2 separate regions of the Homo sapiens genome follow, and region 2 is linked to region 1. The links come from fine-mapping of genetic effects on gene expression. A gene starts in region 1. The other region holds a variant in brackets. All regions are shown on one strand. Distances are from middle to middle.

Evidence for each region.
Region 2: its variant is fine-mapped to the expression of ANGPT1 in whole blood (TOPMed, PIP 0.99).

The regions. Positions count from the first base shown.
Region 1 is chr8:107,494,775-107,503,120 of GRCh38, forward strand. ANGPT1 (angiopoietin 1) reads right to left here and starts at 3,144. Exons shown (of 9, transcript NM_001146.5): 1 at 2,488-3,144. The coding sequence starts at 2,784. RefSeq lists a silencer at 6,643-6,843.
Region 2 is chr8:107,627,911-107,636,256 of GRCh38, forward strand. No RefSeq gene overlaps it. Among named protein-coding and RNA genes, the nearest start is that of ANGPT1, 130 kb to the left of the region's middle. The variant T/C (reference allele first, on the strand shown) is at 4,350.

The sequences.
Region 1 (8,346 bases):
TTATCATATAGCTTCATTTAGAGTTGATAACACATCTATTCTGCCTCAAAACCTTTCCTGATAGCGATGCCATGAGCTGCATAATAATCACTATGCTTTGATTAATTATTTTGCCAAATAAATGGATAAATTAATTTCACCTACATACACTGATAGCCTCAGTTTCTGCAGGGTGTTGCTTCTTCCTATGGCAACTACTTGGAATCAAAATAGAAGTAATACAAATTGCAGTACTGAGCATACCAAATGGTTACAGTAAAAAGATTTCCATTTCAATTATCAGAATAAAAATATCACATGAAGTTTAGAACTTGGAGTGAAGAAAACTCCTAATTAAGGGAAACTTATGAAAGCCTTTAGCAAGTTCTTTGCTGAATGCATTTTTTGGTTTCTTGATCCTCCAACCAATCACATTGACAATGACAAAAGATATGCAAATTTAAACTGACAATAGTCAAGCCACATTGCTCTGACTCATACCAATAGGGACGTTTTCAGCATATATTCAGCTTGATTTTTACACTTGAAAGGGTGAATGTAACCAAAGAACATTTTAATAGTTATTCTTGGCTATAATCTGAAAGCTATCCCATAATCATTGACCAAGAACAATGCAAACAAGAATCAAATTTATTTTGCAAAATAAATTAACATATGAAACACGTGCATGATTTAAGCCCAGCAGAATTATGTGTTTACCCTGTCACTGCTGAATAATTGCATAGCAACAAGAAATATGCATTACTATGTTTGAATCACTATTGTGATTATACGCTTTAAGCAAACAAAACATTACGTTTTTGGTAGAATAGATCATTCAGGATAACTTGGGACTAAATTTTCCTTCCCGTTCCCTCAAAGAATCCAGACTAATATGTAATGATTGAATTCTCACTAAAAACTATACGGATGGTGTACTGAAGAATAATAACAAGCTGTTCAACCAAAATCATTTGTTTACAATGGAAATAAATTTTACCAAAGAAAAATACAAACATCCTATTATAAACTACTACTGAAAGTAATGCATAAAATTTCAGCTACAATTGTAAAAAACCTGAGAGTTCTGTTTGCTTTTTATTCTTCTGCCTACCTACTGATTGCCTATTACAGTCCTATAGTCTGTAATAGAAAGATTACAATATCAGCTTTGGAAACTGTAGAACTACTAAGTTCCAGTTAATGTGTCAAATAAAATAACAGTGATCTTAGTTCAGTCCCTAGTGGACAAAAGTAGAATAACTATTACTTGGCATGATTCAGCAGGCAATGACCTAAGTGAGTGTGACCACACAGGAACAAAATAGAGCATTTGTCCTTTCCCTATCTTTTATCTTTTTAAAGGGATTGCCCGGTTAACAGACTAACTTAAAGAAGCCTGATTGCATACCTATCTACATGTACCAAGTGAATCCATTAACAAGGGAGAGAAGCTTTTCACAAATTGAGACATTGCCTCCCTTCTAGTAGCATAGTCAGTTGAATATACTTATTCTCGGCTGCCTATTATTAAACAGAGTGCAAAGACAGAATGAATTGCAGAAGTGTGTTCATAATTTAATAGGCTTATCTTCAACAAAAACTTAAATGGTTTGTAGATAAATAACTGGATAAACTATTCGATTTGATTTCTATAAATTGAGATTACATTCATACTCAACATTAACATTCATCAAATAACATGGATACTTAAACTCGCCAGGTACTGTCTCTAACTACAATGCCCTGAGAAGGGAGGTATTTCAGGAATATAGTAGACTACATGCTGCGTTCAGCCCATATCTGCAGGTGCATGTCTTCCTCAACAGCCAGCATGCCCTCATCGTGAGCGAGCAACCCCTTTCCGACAGTTAACATTACAATGTATCTTTTTAATTTTTTTTCTCAAGGACAGAAGAAAAAAATATTTAACAGAAATCAGTCTACTATTCTACCACTTGCTGAAACTAACAGTTCCCTTTACATAAATATACAATTTCTCCAACCAAATATCATATTTTATATTTACTCTCACTTCATGTTAATTTTTATAAAGGTTAAAAAAACAAATACTTTGTGATGATTTGCCACCCCAGCGGCACAAAATTTTCTGGTGCAAAATCGATTTGATCTTATTAATTAATATTGTCATTATTATTTATTTTTCACCAACTTGCTTAAGAGGTACATACTTTCTTTCTTAAGGTAGTGTTTTGACAGAGAGAACCTTAATGCTGAACTTTAGAAAAGAGAAACCAAAAATGTCATAAAATTTGCCAGGGCTAGACACACAAACGGGGTGCCCCCACACATTCATAGGTTTGGGCAAGCCCCCAAACCTTGGCTTACCCAGGAAGCCAAACCCAGACAGCCGTCTTGCAATTGCAAACACTGCCCCCCTGGAGCAAAAGGTAAATACACAAATGCTCCCCTAAGGAACTTTAAGTTAGCTGCAGTGCAAGAAAGGAAAAAGGTCCGTGCTATTAGAAACTGAAAGCAATCACTTACTTTTTGCAGCCACTGAGTATAATTTTCCATCACATGTTCCAGATGTTGAAGTTTCTGGGAAGAGAAATCCGGTTCCACGTGTGGAGCATCTCTCTGCAGAGCGTTTGTGTTGTACTGGTCTGTCGTACTCTCACGACAGTTGCCATCGTGTTCTGGAAGAATGAAAGTGTAGGCACATTGCCCATGTTGAATCCGGTTATATCTTCTCCCACTGTTTTCTGGACTTCGGCGCTGATTGCTGCACCCTATGTGAGTCAGAATGGCAGCGAGGAAAGCAAAGGAAAGGAAAACTGTCATTGTACTGCCAGCACACTCCTTCCGTGCCTCTCGCAAAACTTGCTCCTTTCTTCTGACCTCTAAAACTAGTTCTTTATTTCAGGTAAAACTGCTTGTTTGTTTGACTCTTTCCCCCTCAAAGAAAGCGTTTGAAGAAGAATCATAGAAAACTAGCCATTTGTTAGCTTTGTTCTAAAATTTTAAAATTTTTTATTTCACTGCAATGATGTTTTTCTTCGTTAAAACTTGAGATATTTATTGCATAGTAGCTGAGATTTATTGTTTCCTCTCTGTGTGACCGTTCAGCATGGAGCCTGCCTGAGTCAGCTGCGTGTACATATTCTAGACCCTTTCCTCTACCCTATCTGCTGCAGATCTGCTATTTTCTCCCAGACCTCAGTGAGTTTTATTAAGGTTGCACATCCAAGCCAAGCTGGAAGCAGGCAGCCTTTCACAAGATGACTTGACAGGAATGCATGAGTGTGCCCCTATACTAAGGATTGCTGATGGCTTAGGGCGGCGGGATCGTCTTACAAATTGGCTAGATGCGCATGACCTCGATCATGTATGGCCCTCCCGCCCCTTTCCACAGACAATTGCCTTGAGCCTTTAGCAGATTCATGGCAAATCAATAAATAGAGCAGTCCACCTTAATACACTTTTGGTGTGCATGCTGACCTACTAAAATATAGCAAACTAGCAGTATGTTTTTAAAGTTACTATTTAGTCGAGGGACCCTAAGAAGAAAATTGGCATAATGTCCAATGGAATTATTTTTGATAGAGAATGATAAACCCATATCATTATTAAATGTCTTTAAAAAACATGTATTCTTGACTCTGAGGAAAAATATGTTAAAAAACAGTTTTTACAGATGGTATTCTTTCATTGTATTCACTTAGACTTTTAGGAGTTGAAGAAAATAATCAGAGAGGATCAAATTAGCAAGAAAATTAGCATCATTTGTTGCTCAAAGCAATATGTTGCACAAAGCAATATAGTATGTGCATATTAAAGAGGGTTATCTAAGTACCTTTTGGTATAGGGTTCTTAAATGAAACTGGTGTCCTGATCAGAATGCAACCCTTCATGTTCTGTGTATATAAATTGAGCAACTTCCCTACAAAAACAATGTGGCTACAATTTAAAGCAGTGGCTTGAGAATTATTAATTCCTGTGGTATATCCTAATCCTGTATTTTACAAGGATCTCTTTGGTGGCTATGGCTGTCTTTAACACTGGTGTGGAAGTTCCACATAAAAACCTCCTGTGGCTGCACAGACATACTATGTGAGAACAAGCATATATCAGGTGTGCTAACAGCCAGCAATGGGCTGTACAGGAGACATCTCTGTGCTTCTGTGAAGGAAGAAAGAAAAATTATCAGAAGATGATTTCCCACAGGCAGCGTATAAACATTTGAACAAAGGGACCCATAAACATAAACAGGCAATAATTGTAGAATTTAGGGAACGGCTTTGAGATCTTTACTAGATGCAGAAAACCTGAATTATGAGTTGGGATTTTCATTAGGAACTGGGAGGGCTTTTAGACAACTGCAGTCATGGTGTGAAAACAGAAGCCACAGCTGTCATCTCCCATGTCTTGGAAGGAGAACAGGGCAGTGGGTGAAGGTCCGTAGTGGTTAGAGATGGGCATTTAGGGAGAAGTTAGAGGAGAGGTCAAAACAAATTCCAGAACAAATGCGATTTACTTGGGGAAAGAAACCTTGCCGAGATTCATCAGTCCTTTCCACACCAAATAACAAATTTCTGATTGGACAGATATGGAAGCAAGTTATGCCAAACACAGCAATAAAATATTTGAACCACTTTTGCAGCCTCTTGAACTTTTGCGTGTCTCCTCATTGAGTCATGTATCACTCCTGTGCAACAATAATAATGGCATGCATTAAGACCTTACTGTTTTCCAGGCGAAGCACTCCTTACACACTATCTCACTTAATCATTCCAACAAACCTAAGATCACGGATATCATCCGTTTAACCCCATTTTATCAATGGGAAGACTGAGTCACAGAAAGGCTAACAGGATGTAATTCACAGAGCTGGCAAGTGATGGCGCCAGTATGTGAACTCAGGCAAACTGACTCAGAGCCTGTTTCAAACCACCAGGCCAGCCTGCTTTTGGAAATCTCTGCAAGGAATGAAAGCAATTTCAAAAGCGCTCCAGCTGCATTGATTTACAGTCCTAAACCAGGAGAAGTGACGTACCTAGAAGAAAAAGCACTGTTAAAACCAGAGTATCTCTCCAAAGTGATTCAGGCCTTTTCCAGCACACGCGTGCGCGCGCACACGCACACACGCACACACGCACACACACAGTGACAGGTAACCTATGCACAGCCACAAAGATGAAGTGCACTGGCAAAATGCAGGTTGTCTAAGAACACTTTCCAATAATGCTTGATTTGAAAATTATCCATGGAAAGAAGAGAGTCCAAACCCGACACCTAGAAGTGTTTTGCGAAGAACTAAATACAGCAGAAAATTGGCAGAAGACTAATGGATGAGTGGTGAGGTTTCTATTAAAGTGCTCCTGTGTTTTTAAATAGCCGAGACTGTTAAAAATCTGTTCCTCCACGTGTGTGTCTGTGTACGTCTCTGTGTCCTTATCCATGTGAATTTTCGCAATTAGAATAAATGAAAAGCAGGAATGCACAATTTCCTGAGGGAAAAGTAGACACTAAGAAAGAGAAGCCTGAAATGCAAATAAAAAAGGAGGGGTCGAGGGACAAAGAGACAGAGAAAAATGTAGAGACTGATTTATTTCTTTTGCAGAAAAACAAAATCAACCTTAAACCATAACACTGGAAGTACTAGTGTCATTCTGAAAAAAAATGTCTGAAGATGAATTTTAAGTAATTAGAAAACACAAGGATGTGCAGAATTGACTCCGGTGTTTTTGGAACTCCAGTTAAGGAGACTGTAGGTACATTTAAGGATCCTGACACACTAAAGATAATATGTCTTTGGGATCATGCATCTAAGCAACAGCAACACTGTTGTGTGTTGCTGATTATTCAGAAATGGGGCAGAATTCAGGATGCATTAAAATTTAGGGAGTAGGGCTGGGTTCAGTGGCTCATGCCTGTAATCCCAGCACTTTGGGAGGCCGAAGTGGGAGGATCGTTGGAGACTAGGATTTTGAGTACAGCCTGGGCAGCATAGGGTGACCCTCCCTGTCTCTACCCAAGATAAAATAAAATAAAAATTAGCCAGGTGTGGTGGCACGCCCAGGACCTGTGGTCCCAGCTACTCAGGAAGCTGAGGTGAGAGAATCGCTTGAGTCCAGGGGGTTGAGGCTGCAGTGAGCCATGATTGCCACTGCACTCCAGCCTGGATGACAGAGTGAGACCCTTTCTAAATAATAATAATAATAATAAGCGAGTAATAAGAACAAGCCAATTAAAATTCATCTACCACACCTCCATGAAGGATAAAATATTTATAAAGAACTAAACAATTCTGTTCAATTGAATTCTGTGGTAGCTTGAACCCAAAAGCTTTGTGTTTTATTAGAGATCTGGAATAAGGAAGTGTAGGCTTTAAGGTTTTGATCTCATATTTACAAAGAGTCCTAGTAAATGTCCCACTTAGTCTGAAATTTCCAAAGGGACCAAGAGCCATTTATACCAGAACTTAATGTGCCTAAATCTATCCTAAGAAACAGTCTTTGATAATTCTTTGGTAAAGCTTTCTTAATTTCTCCAGGTCCAATAAATGCTCTCTGTGTTAAATTTCAATAACCTTCTCCTCATGTCTCCAAAACTGCACTGCTCACGTTGCTTGCTAATTGTTGCCTTTTTTTTTATCTGTCTCTTGCTTTTGCTGTGAGCTGCTAAAGTGATCTTCTCTTTGTCATCATTGATTCCTCAACATTCACTATGCACTTTGTCTGAAGGAATGAAAGAATAAGCAAATAAATGAATGAGCTGATTAATGACTCAGTTGATGCAACTTCCTGACTCTCTATCTGGTTACTACATGACTGGCCACATTCATTGCATTTGTTGGGTGAGTTTGCCTAGAATCCCTAGGCATGAAGAACTGAGGATAAAGCCAAACTTATTCTAAAGAATGAGTTAGACGCAAGAGCAAAGTACAATAATAATTCATAGTATTTTTTAACACTTAACAAATAATTTTCTCATCTAATGTTTACAGAACCCCCATAATTATGTAATATTATATATTATTATTCCCATTTTGCTGATGAGAAATGTGGAGCCATAGAGATTAATCGCCCAGGATCTATGATCTCTTAGGAGGCAGAACAGGAATTTGATCCTCAATCCATCTAACTGTGAGGCTCACATTCATTTCCCACTGAGCTATATTGTTTATGACAATACTTCAGTATTGAGAAAATATTTCTTATAATTTAGGGAACAAGAACAACATGGTGACTTCCCCCTTCAGAGGTCCCTTTCCTCTGAAACCCAGGGCTTTCACAGATTCATGTTATGATCTTCCAAAACAGGGATAATATTAAATCAGGATGCACCAGTATGGTAAGATATGCTTACCAACAGCCAATCTGATTAATCGGATTATACTTTAGAAATATTCTAAATGGTTGGTCCTATGCCATGTCATCTGTTAGATATCTTGATCATCACTCCTGCTCTACAATAAAATCAAAATATATGAAAAAAAATAGTATTTATTTCTCAAAAATACCACCAGGCAATGAGATTCAAGGAAATAGTCCTCTGGTATTTATACAACCACTTATAGGGGAAAAAGGGGTGGGAAAGTATTCTCCTACTTTGTGTTCTGAACACAATGTGATTCACCACACCAAGGGTGCCATATTCTGTGACTCTGCTCAGGCACTTTTAGGGATCAAGACTATCATCAGGCCTATAGAAGTGGCAGCTCTATCTAAAAGGAGGGAGGGCACTTGGCTGTAGCTCCTGGAAGCAGAGCCAAGACACCTTCACTCAACTATGTAGGCAGCAAAGGTATCCACAACAGTTGGAAATATCACAGGGGACAAAACCAAAAACAGAAGAAGATGGAGGATATCATCTGGTAACTGAAGGCACTTCATGAGTACATGCAAAATATCCATTTAGAACTCCCAGAATAACTGGGAGGATGCTACAAAAAGCTGGAAACACTGCAGCAAGTGGGATGAGGACTGGAGGCATATAGATAAGTGAGGAAAATAAAAATTATCATATAAATATTCCTCTGTCTTTTGATGACAGAAATTTCTGGTAATTGTTAGGTATCTTGTTTGTTAAGTAGGTTTAATTTAATTTTATTTTTGAGACAGGGTCTCGCTTTGTCACCCAGGCTGGAGTGCGGTGGCATGATCTCAGCTCACTGTAGCCTCTGCCTCTGAGGCTCAAGTGATCCTTCCACCTCAGCCTCCCTAGTAGCTGGGACTACAGGCATGCACCATCGTACCCGGCTAATTTTTGTATTATTTTGTAGAGATGGAGTTTCACCATGTTCCCCAGGCTGGTCTCGAATTCCTGGACTCAAGCAAACCACCAGCCTCGGCCTCCCCAACTGCTGGGATTACAGGCGTAAGCCACCAGGCTCAGCCTGTT
Region 2 (8,346 bases), 130 kb after region 1:
AATTCAGTTTCCACTTTGACAAACTTTAGATTTGAGTTTCTTAGGCCAATGATCTCCATGTGGACCAGCAGTTTAAGCAGAGCTACTGCTTTTGACCATCATTACACTCTTTATTGCCAGGCAGATTAATTTATAGAAAATTACTTGCAGCTTTTATTGGTGTTTCCTTATCCTTTGACCCTGAAAACAGAGATAGGTCTGAAGATAAACTCTTTGAACCCAGAATAGTTACCTACTGCTTATTATCAAAATGAAAACTAGAACTGCCAGAACAGATTTTCCTTTCATGGTGGTAAAATGTGAATATACTATGAACTCTCCTAATTTTCCTTGTATATTGAAAAGTATCAGAGAGCTGCGTACATAGACATTTTTATCACCCAATCATCTGCCTACATTAAGGCATGTGTGCTAGGCTGAATAACTACCCCGCAATGAAGGCCATATCCTCATTCCTGGAATATGCTATTTTATGCAGCAAAAGGGACTTACAAAACCGGAGATGGGGAAATATCCTGGATCATCCTGGCGGGCCCAGTGTAACTACCATGGTCTTTGCAAAACAAAGACAGAGGGTTAGAATCAGAGAGAGAAAGAGTTCTCTAATAACTGAACCAGAGGTCAGGGTGATGGGCCAGTAAGCAAGAAATGCAACCAGACTCTAGAAGCTGGAAATTTAAGAAATGGATTCTCCTCTAAAGCCTCCAAAAGGATCACAGCTCTGCCAACACCTTGATTTTAGCACCCTAACACTCATTTCAGACTTTCTATCTCTAGAATTGTTAGATAATAAATATGTGTTGTTTAAAGCCACTACATTTGAATTAATTTGTTATAGTAGCAATGTTGTTCTATCAACAAGAAACTAATATAGCATGCCAAAATAAAATGTATAACATTTTCTATTTTTCTTATTGAACTAATATTGTTGAGTATGTTGTTTATGCCATCACACTATGTCTTCTTTTTAGACTTGCACAACAGAAACCCTCTTTGGATGTCAGTACACAAACAACTGTGTCTCCTGAGCTCCCAGAATCTGTGGATTACATTCCTGATTATTCTCTCACATGGGGTCTTCCCTACTAGTATACTTGAATCCAATCCATTCTTAGGAACACTACCTTTATCCCTGGTTCAACTTTGTTTCCTGTTTTGTTTGCTCTTTACCCTTTTTTCATTTATTTATCTTTACTTTCTTATTTTATGCTCTTTTAAGTCATCTCAAATAATTTTTAAAAGATGAGTATAAATGAATAAATCATGAAGCAAATTCTTATGAATCTTTTATTAAGAAAGATCTTCTTTCTGCTTAATTGAAGTCTTTCCCATTGCAAATTAATCTCAGTGAAGCCTGAGCAACATAGAGAGGCCCTGTCTCTACAAAAACTTTAAATAATGATTATGGTGGAATGCACCTATAATCTCAGCTGCTCAGGAGGCTGAGCCGGAGAATCACTTGAGCCTAGGAGTTCGAGGCTGCAGTGAGCGATGAGTGTGTCACTGAACTCCAGCCTTGGTGTCAGAGTGAGACCCTGTCTCTAAAAAATCAATGAAAAGAAAATATAGAGATAAACGGAGGAATTTGGAAGGATGCCATTTTGAAAAAAAGAAGAGTCTAGAGGTTTATTTTACTTTATTTTCAGCTTAGACTAACAAATAACATTTCCATTTTAATGGAGTTCAGAATATGTTTTCCCAAAATATGGCACTTTGGCATTTGAAAAACAGCAGAAGCAGGATGGACATCTCTTTGGCCTTCTCCTGCCATTGTGCCCTGAAGCAGACCATAAAATAATTATCTGACCTTCCTCTAAAGTAGGTCATCATTCTCATTCCAGAGGAGCCCTCCCTCTACCCAGAAAAAAGGAATGAAGACACAGAGAAGAATCTGAACAAACAGGTCTTGCTAAGTTTTACCCAGTTTATTACCGTTGGGTCAGAACTTTTTGTCCTCTAATCATACTTCTGCACAATTGTCCACAAAACTGCACAATTTTCCCTGTTTTTTTTTTTTTTTTTTTTTTTTTTTGGCAGGGGTCTTCATCTCTGAAGGCTTCTATGTCAAGTAAAACTTATACTACATAGATTTGTGTGCTTTTCTCTTGTTAATCTAATTTTTTATTACCAGGGTCTCAGTCATGAATTGAACAATGAATGGATGAGAAAAAAAAAATCTCTTCTCCCCTACAATTTTACAATTATCTTTTTGAGACTAAGTCTCCCTCTGTCACCCAGGCTGGAGTGCAGTGGCACCATCTCAGCTCACTGTGACCTCCACCTCCCAGGTTCAAGTGATTCTGCTGCCTCAGCTTCCCGAGTAGCTGGGACAACAGGCACACACGCCACCACTCCTGGCTAATTTTTTGTATTTTTAGTAGAAACGGGTTTTTGCCATGTTGGCCAGGCTGGTCTCAAACTCCTGACCTCAGGTGATCTACAATATTTTTTTTAATAAAGATTCATCCTGTAAAATCCATTTATTTACACAGCCTCCATTCTGGAAGCAAACTCACTGATAATATGATTTCCCTAATAATGTACATAACAATTCTATTTGTTTTCTACGTAGATGCGTTTATAATTTATAGTTTCCTTTGTGCATGATGATGACAGACTGATATTGGTCCTGTATCCCAAACAGGGATTTAACTAAGATCAAAAATTGGGTTTCAAAAAAAATCCTTTGATTTTTGGCAACAACTGTTCATTCTTTGGCTAAACCCTCGTCTGTAACATTGGCTTCCCATGTTTGAAGGGCTCTTGTATAAGCATGAAGAACTGGCTTTCTCTGCTCTTCACCCAGTGACCCATGACATTGAAACAACCTTTGTCTTCATTGTGACAGAAATGTTCTCATTCAATAGTTGTCACAGAGCACTGTTCATTCAAGGAGTTCCGCTTAGCTGTTACTCTGCAAATACATTTCCTATAGTTGATGCTGATATTGGGGAATTAACCTTTCACACCTCTTTTCCATTTGATCCTACCTGTTGACATTTGTATGCCAAAAAAAGAATATGTCAGTGTCATGAGAAAGAGTAGATATGAAGTTCCAAAGTGCTTGTCTGCCAAGTAGACAGGTTTAGCTGAGGAAGGTGACTGGGAAATGTGTGAAGATCACACCAGACATTGAGATGTATGTTTAGAAACAGGGAAAAAAAAAAAAACCTGATTAGCAAGAAAGCTGGTAGGAGCAAAATCTGGGAAGTGAGCAGATAATAGCAGGTGACAAAGTGGGCCATAAAGTGGTGAATAAAGAAGAACAATTTGCAGAGATGCATGCACCATTCAGCATGAAAACTTAGTAGTCGGTCAAGGAGACAATAGCCTTGACTGGTCGAAGTGGAGTTTGATTTGACTTTTTAGGACTTGTTGTAGAATGAGAATTCCCTTGATCATGTGGGAAAGTAGGGAAGACCAGTGCCCAAGTCACTCATGGAACCTTATAGAGAGAATGAGGGGGCCAGCAAAACAGTAAATTATAACACTGCAGGGCCAGATTACAAAATGTTTGCTCTAGGTAACAAATATCTGTGTTTTCTTATAGAAGGAATAGAGGGTAATGCTTCTAAATCTACGTGTGTATGATGACAGATGTTTATGCTTCCAAATTTATCTACGTATGATGGCATATGTTTTTATTCATCAATATATTGCTCTTTTATTTCTCAGCCCTCTGTGACAATATTTTATTTCTTTCGTTTTGTTTCATATCTGTTTTCCTCAACAGGCTGTTTTCTTGCCCTGGGGGGCAGGAATCAGATTTATTCTGTTGACTATTCAGTATCCAGGCAGCAAGGACAATGCCTGTCACATAATAGGCGTTAAATATATACTTATTAAATAAGTTGATGAATAAATAAATTAGTACATGAATGATAAACTCAATTTTCATGGATGCTTATTGGTGAGTGACTAACTTGTAAAACTATGACCACCCAAAACTAGATTTGGTTTCTATGTTGGCAAAACATCAGTCTATTTGAAACATTCAAATGAGTAATCATGTGTTTGGCTAAATATTTATCACTCTCCAGGAATTAGAGAAATAGGACTTATAGATGCTTTCAGTCTTTTCTGTCTTTGAGTGAGAAAAACCATAAATAGAACTAGAGCCCTGTTTTCACGTTGGGGCTTTTGTTTTATAATTCCTAGAATGCATGGAAACAGTAAAAATACTAAATATTTAAAAAATTAAGAATGTGGATTAATTTTAGGGTTAACTAATAGGTTCAGTCTTTCCTCTATTTGGTTGTTAAGTCTCCGTACTCATACTTTGAGGATGTTTGAATCTATTTGTCACCCCCATCTGTTTACATTTAGATTTGAAAACTAGATAGCACTTG[T/C]GTAATACAATGATTCAATTTGGACAGTGCCATATTTTAAGGAAGCAGTTTTAAGAAACTTTTTTTTTCTCCACGAAGCTAGGACAACCTCAGTATGTCTAATCTCTAACTTCTTTTCCTGAAAGAGAATCTAAACAAACCCTCTTTTATGGTATATTAGAAAGCAGCACGTTCCTCGTTCACCAAGGATACTTGCTAACATCTCAGGAAAAACAGGTGCCTACGTATAAGGGTCTCCGAGCTCCCAAAGTCCTGCTGAATACATATAATTCCTCTTTCAGAAGGAAAATAACAATACATATAGTTCCTCTTTCAGAAGGAAAATAACAATACATATATTTCCTCTTTCAGAAGGAAAATAACAATACATATAGTTCCTCTTTCAGAAGGAAAATAACAATACATATAGTTCCTCTTTCAGAAGGAAAGTTTTGTGAAAGAATAGCCATTTTGAAACCCAGGAGTAATCAAATATCAGTGGCATGAATAAACATAATTATACCCCCATGAAGAGAAGTTAAGGAAAATAGGGAAAAAGGAAGAATCCTGTAACCATGGAACACTCTACAGTTTTTTTTCTTATTGTTTTGTTTTTTTTTTTTTTTTTTTGGCAATCTAATGCCGATAATTCTCACTATCATTTATTTTCAAGACCATGAAGCTAAACGTCAACTCATTAAATGCTGCATGCATATCTTCTTTTCAGAAATCTTCAATTGATTACAATCAATACATCTTGAAAAGAGCCTTTGGCCAAATCCAAGATTCCTCTGCATAGATTATTGCCTTCAGTGATGGGAACAAAGGGAAAGAAGCCTGCAGAAAAATGTGTCTTCCCTGGAGAAGCAGGCCCTGGAGGGCAATAACCAAGTCAGGAATCAAGGCTGTAATTTTGCAGGCACATGTCTTATTAGATAAATGTGCCTGCTTTTTGTGAATTCTGGAAACTGTTCTCCACTTCATTTATTCTTGGTTTTTCCTTTCTCCCCTAAGAACTTGCCCAAGGGCATGAGTGCCCCCCTCCTGTATCAGCATGACCTGGATGTGAAACATGGAGCCAAAGGAGATTATGTCAGAGCTTTAAGATTTAATTATTGCCTTGTTGGATTTTGGACTTGCATGGGGCCTGCAGCCCCTTTGTTTTGGCCAATTTCTCCCATTTGGAATGGGTGTATTTACCCTATTCCTGTACCTCAATTGTATCTAGGAAGTAACTAACTTGCTTTTGATTTTATAGGCTCATACATGGAAGGAACTTGCCTTGTCTCAGATGAGACTATGAACTTGGACTTCTGGGTTAATGCTGAAATGAGTTAAGACTTTGAGGAACTGTTGGGAAGGCATAATGTGAGAAAGACAAAATTTGGGAGGGGTCAGGGTTGAATAATATACTCTGTGTCCCCACCCTAATCTCATCTTGATTTGTAATCTGAAATGTAATCCCCACATGTTGGGGGAGGGACCTCATGGGAAGTGATTAGATCATGGGGGCAGTTCCCCCATGCTGTTCTCATGATGGTGAGTGAGTTTTCACGAGATCTAATGGTTTTATTAGGGGCTTTTACCCCCTTCACTCCTCTCTCCTGCTGCCATGTGAAGAAAGACATGTTTACTTCCCCTTTTGCCACGATTGTAAGTTTCCTGAGGCCTCCCCAGCCATGCAGAACTGTGAGTCAGAACTGGTTATAAATTACCCAGTCTTGAGTATCTCTTCAAAGCAATGTGAGAACAGACTAATACAGAACTCATATGTATAAATAGTCAAAAAATTAAATATATAAATGAAGCAGCAGCAATGTGGAAAAAAAAAGTGCCAAAAATTGGTATAGTGCTGTCACATCTATTTGTAAATACTCTGGAAATACATAAATATGAGATTACCCTCAGCGAAATAAGTGTTAATATTATTTTGTTCTATTGCCTGGGATACACAGGAACTTTAAACCAAAGGCAAAGATATATTTTCCTACCTTCTCATCTTCAACTCCCGTTAGCTTCAGTTTGGAAGAAAAATGTCTTAAAACTACTTAGCAGCAGGGTATAAAGGAAGAGGTATGTATGTAAATGCATTTTTTGTTTGTTTGTTTTGTTTTTAAAATATGCTTTATTTTTTAGAGCAGGTTTAGTTTCACAGCAAAATTGAGCACAATGTTACAGAAATTTCGCATATACTCCCTGGCTCCACACATGCATAGCCTCCCCAACTACCAAAATTCCACACCAGAATTGTTCATTTCTTACAACCAATAAACCTACATTGACACATCATTATCCCCCAAAGTCCATTACAGTAAGGTTCTCTTGTTGTTGTGGATTCTATGGGTTTGGATGTAAATGGTTTCTTATTTCCTAAAATGCTGAAGAATAATCCATTACCAATATATTTAATAATTCAGTAACTATTAATGAAACCATCATTATTTCATTAAAATGAAGTTGACTGTGATGCAAGAAAAGAGTACTGAATGATATATCTTTGACCGCAAAGATTTTACAACATATTTTAATAAAACAGGAAGTGACAATATAAAATAAAAAATTCTTAACCAAGTGCTTTTTTGAGTGACTTTTACCTGCAAGATGATATCTTAGAATCATTACTATAAACTAGTGGTTGGGAATAGCGGGAGGGATAAATATAATTCAGATGTGCATTCTGCCCAAAGAGCTTAAAGTTTAGTCAAAAAAATATGACATGCATCTAAACAGTTATAATTGAAAGATAAAAGTGACAAAAATATGTGACTGAGAATTGTGAGAATATAAAGAATTATTGGAACTAACAGAAGGGAGAGATTTACTTCAGCTAATCTGATATTGCCTAAATGGGAGAGGTGGTTTATTAACAGGTTCTGAACAAAGGCTGAATATTTATTCATGAAGAGAAGAAGTAAGCAAAGTCACAGAGTCTGGGAAATGTGGAAAATGGCCGTTTATTCATTCCATCAATTCAGCCTCTATTTATGTGTCTATCCAGCACCTACAAGAAGCCAGCCACTGTTGTTGGTGTCGGAGACACAACAGTAAATATAACAGACAAAAATCCTGTCCTTGAGGAACTTACTATTGTGTGGAAGCAAAGTTTAAGTTTGGTCTAAGTGAAGTGGACTTTTTAAAAATGCAGGGGCAGGGAGGGGAGGCAGAAAATGTTCGGGTGGGTAGAATAAGGCTAAGTCATAGAAAGTCTTGAAGGTTAAGCCAGAAAGTCCAAGTTTTGTTGTTTACATAAAGCTAAGCCACTAAAGCTTTTTGAGTAGCAAAATATCGTCATCAAATCTGTACTTCTGGAAGACTAATTAGGCAGCTAATTTGTAAGATGAAGCCAAGATGATTCAGGTAGATAGACAGTGCAGCAGCTCTGCAAAGAAATAACACAGACAAGCAAGTCAGGGGAGAGAGATCAGGTGCTGGAGAGGATATATGTGTCTCTAGCTGTGAAGTTAAGGACACAAAAAGCCTGTTTTCCAAAGAAGGCAAGAAAGTGCCTGGCCAGCACTTCATAATGCGGTTTTGCCCAGGAAAGATTAAGTTTGCAAAACATTCACCCTTTCCTCTGGCAGGTTAATTCTCTTTGAAGTGGTCAGTTAACGGATCTTTACCCCTTTACAGGCATTTCCTTTTGCCGAAAGCAGTGACTACTGAGGTAGAAATGCATTGGCTCCAGAGAATTGAAATGGACCTCCCATCATTAAAGTCTTTATTCTCGAAGGAACACTGAGGATTGAGGAGAAAGGGGCCTTTTTGTTCGGGTTTAATTCTATTGCCTCCCTTGCTACTCATCTGTTTAGCAAATGAAGAGAGAAATTAATGATGATGATGAATGAATAGCGGAGGGAAATGGGTAGGCATTGTAAAGTTAGGCCAATTCACAATCGTCACCAAAATGAGCTTGATGCTTATTTTCCTAGTCTTTAGACCTCTGCCTTTATCCTTGGTTTTTCTTTATTTTTCTGTTATTCCCAAACACACCAATGTACAAAGTGAGTCTGCGGCCAGC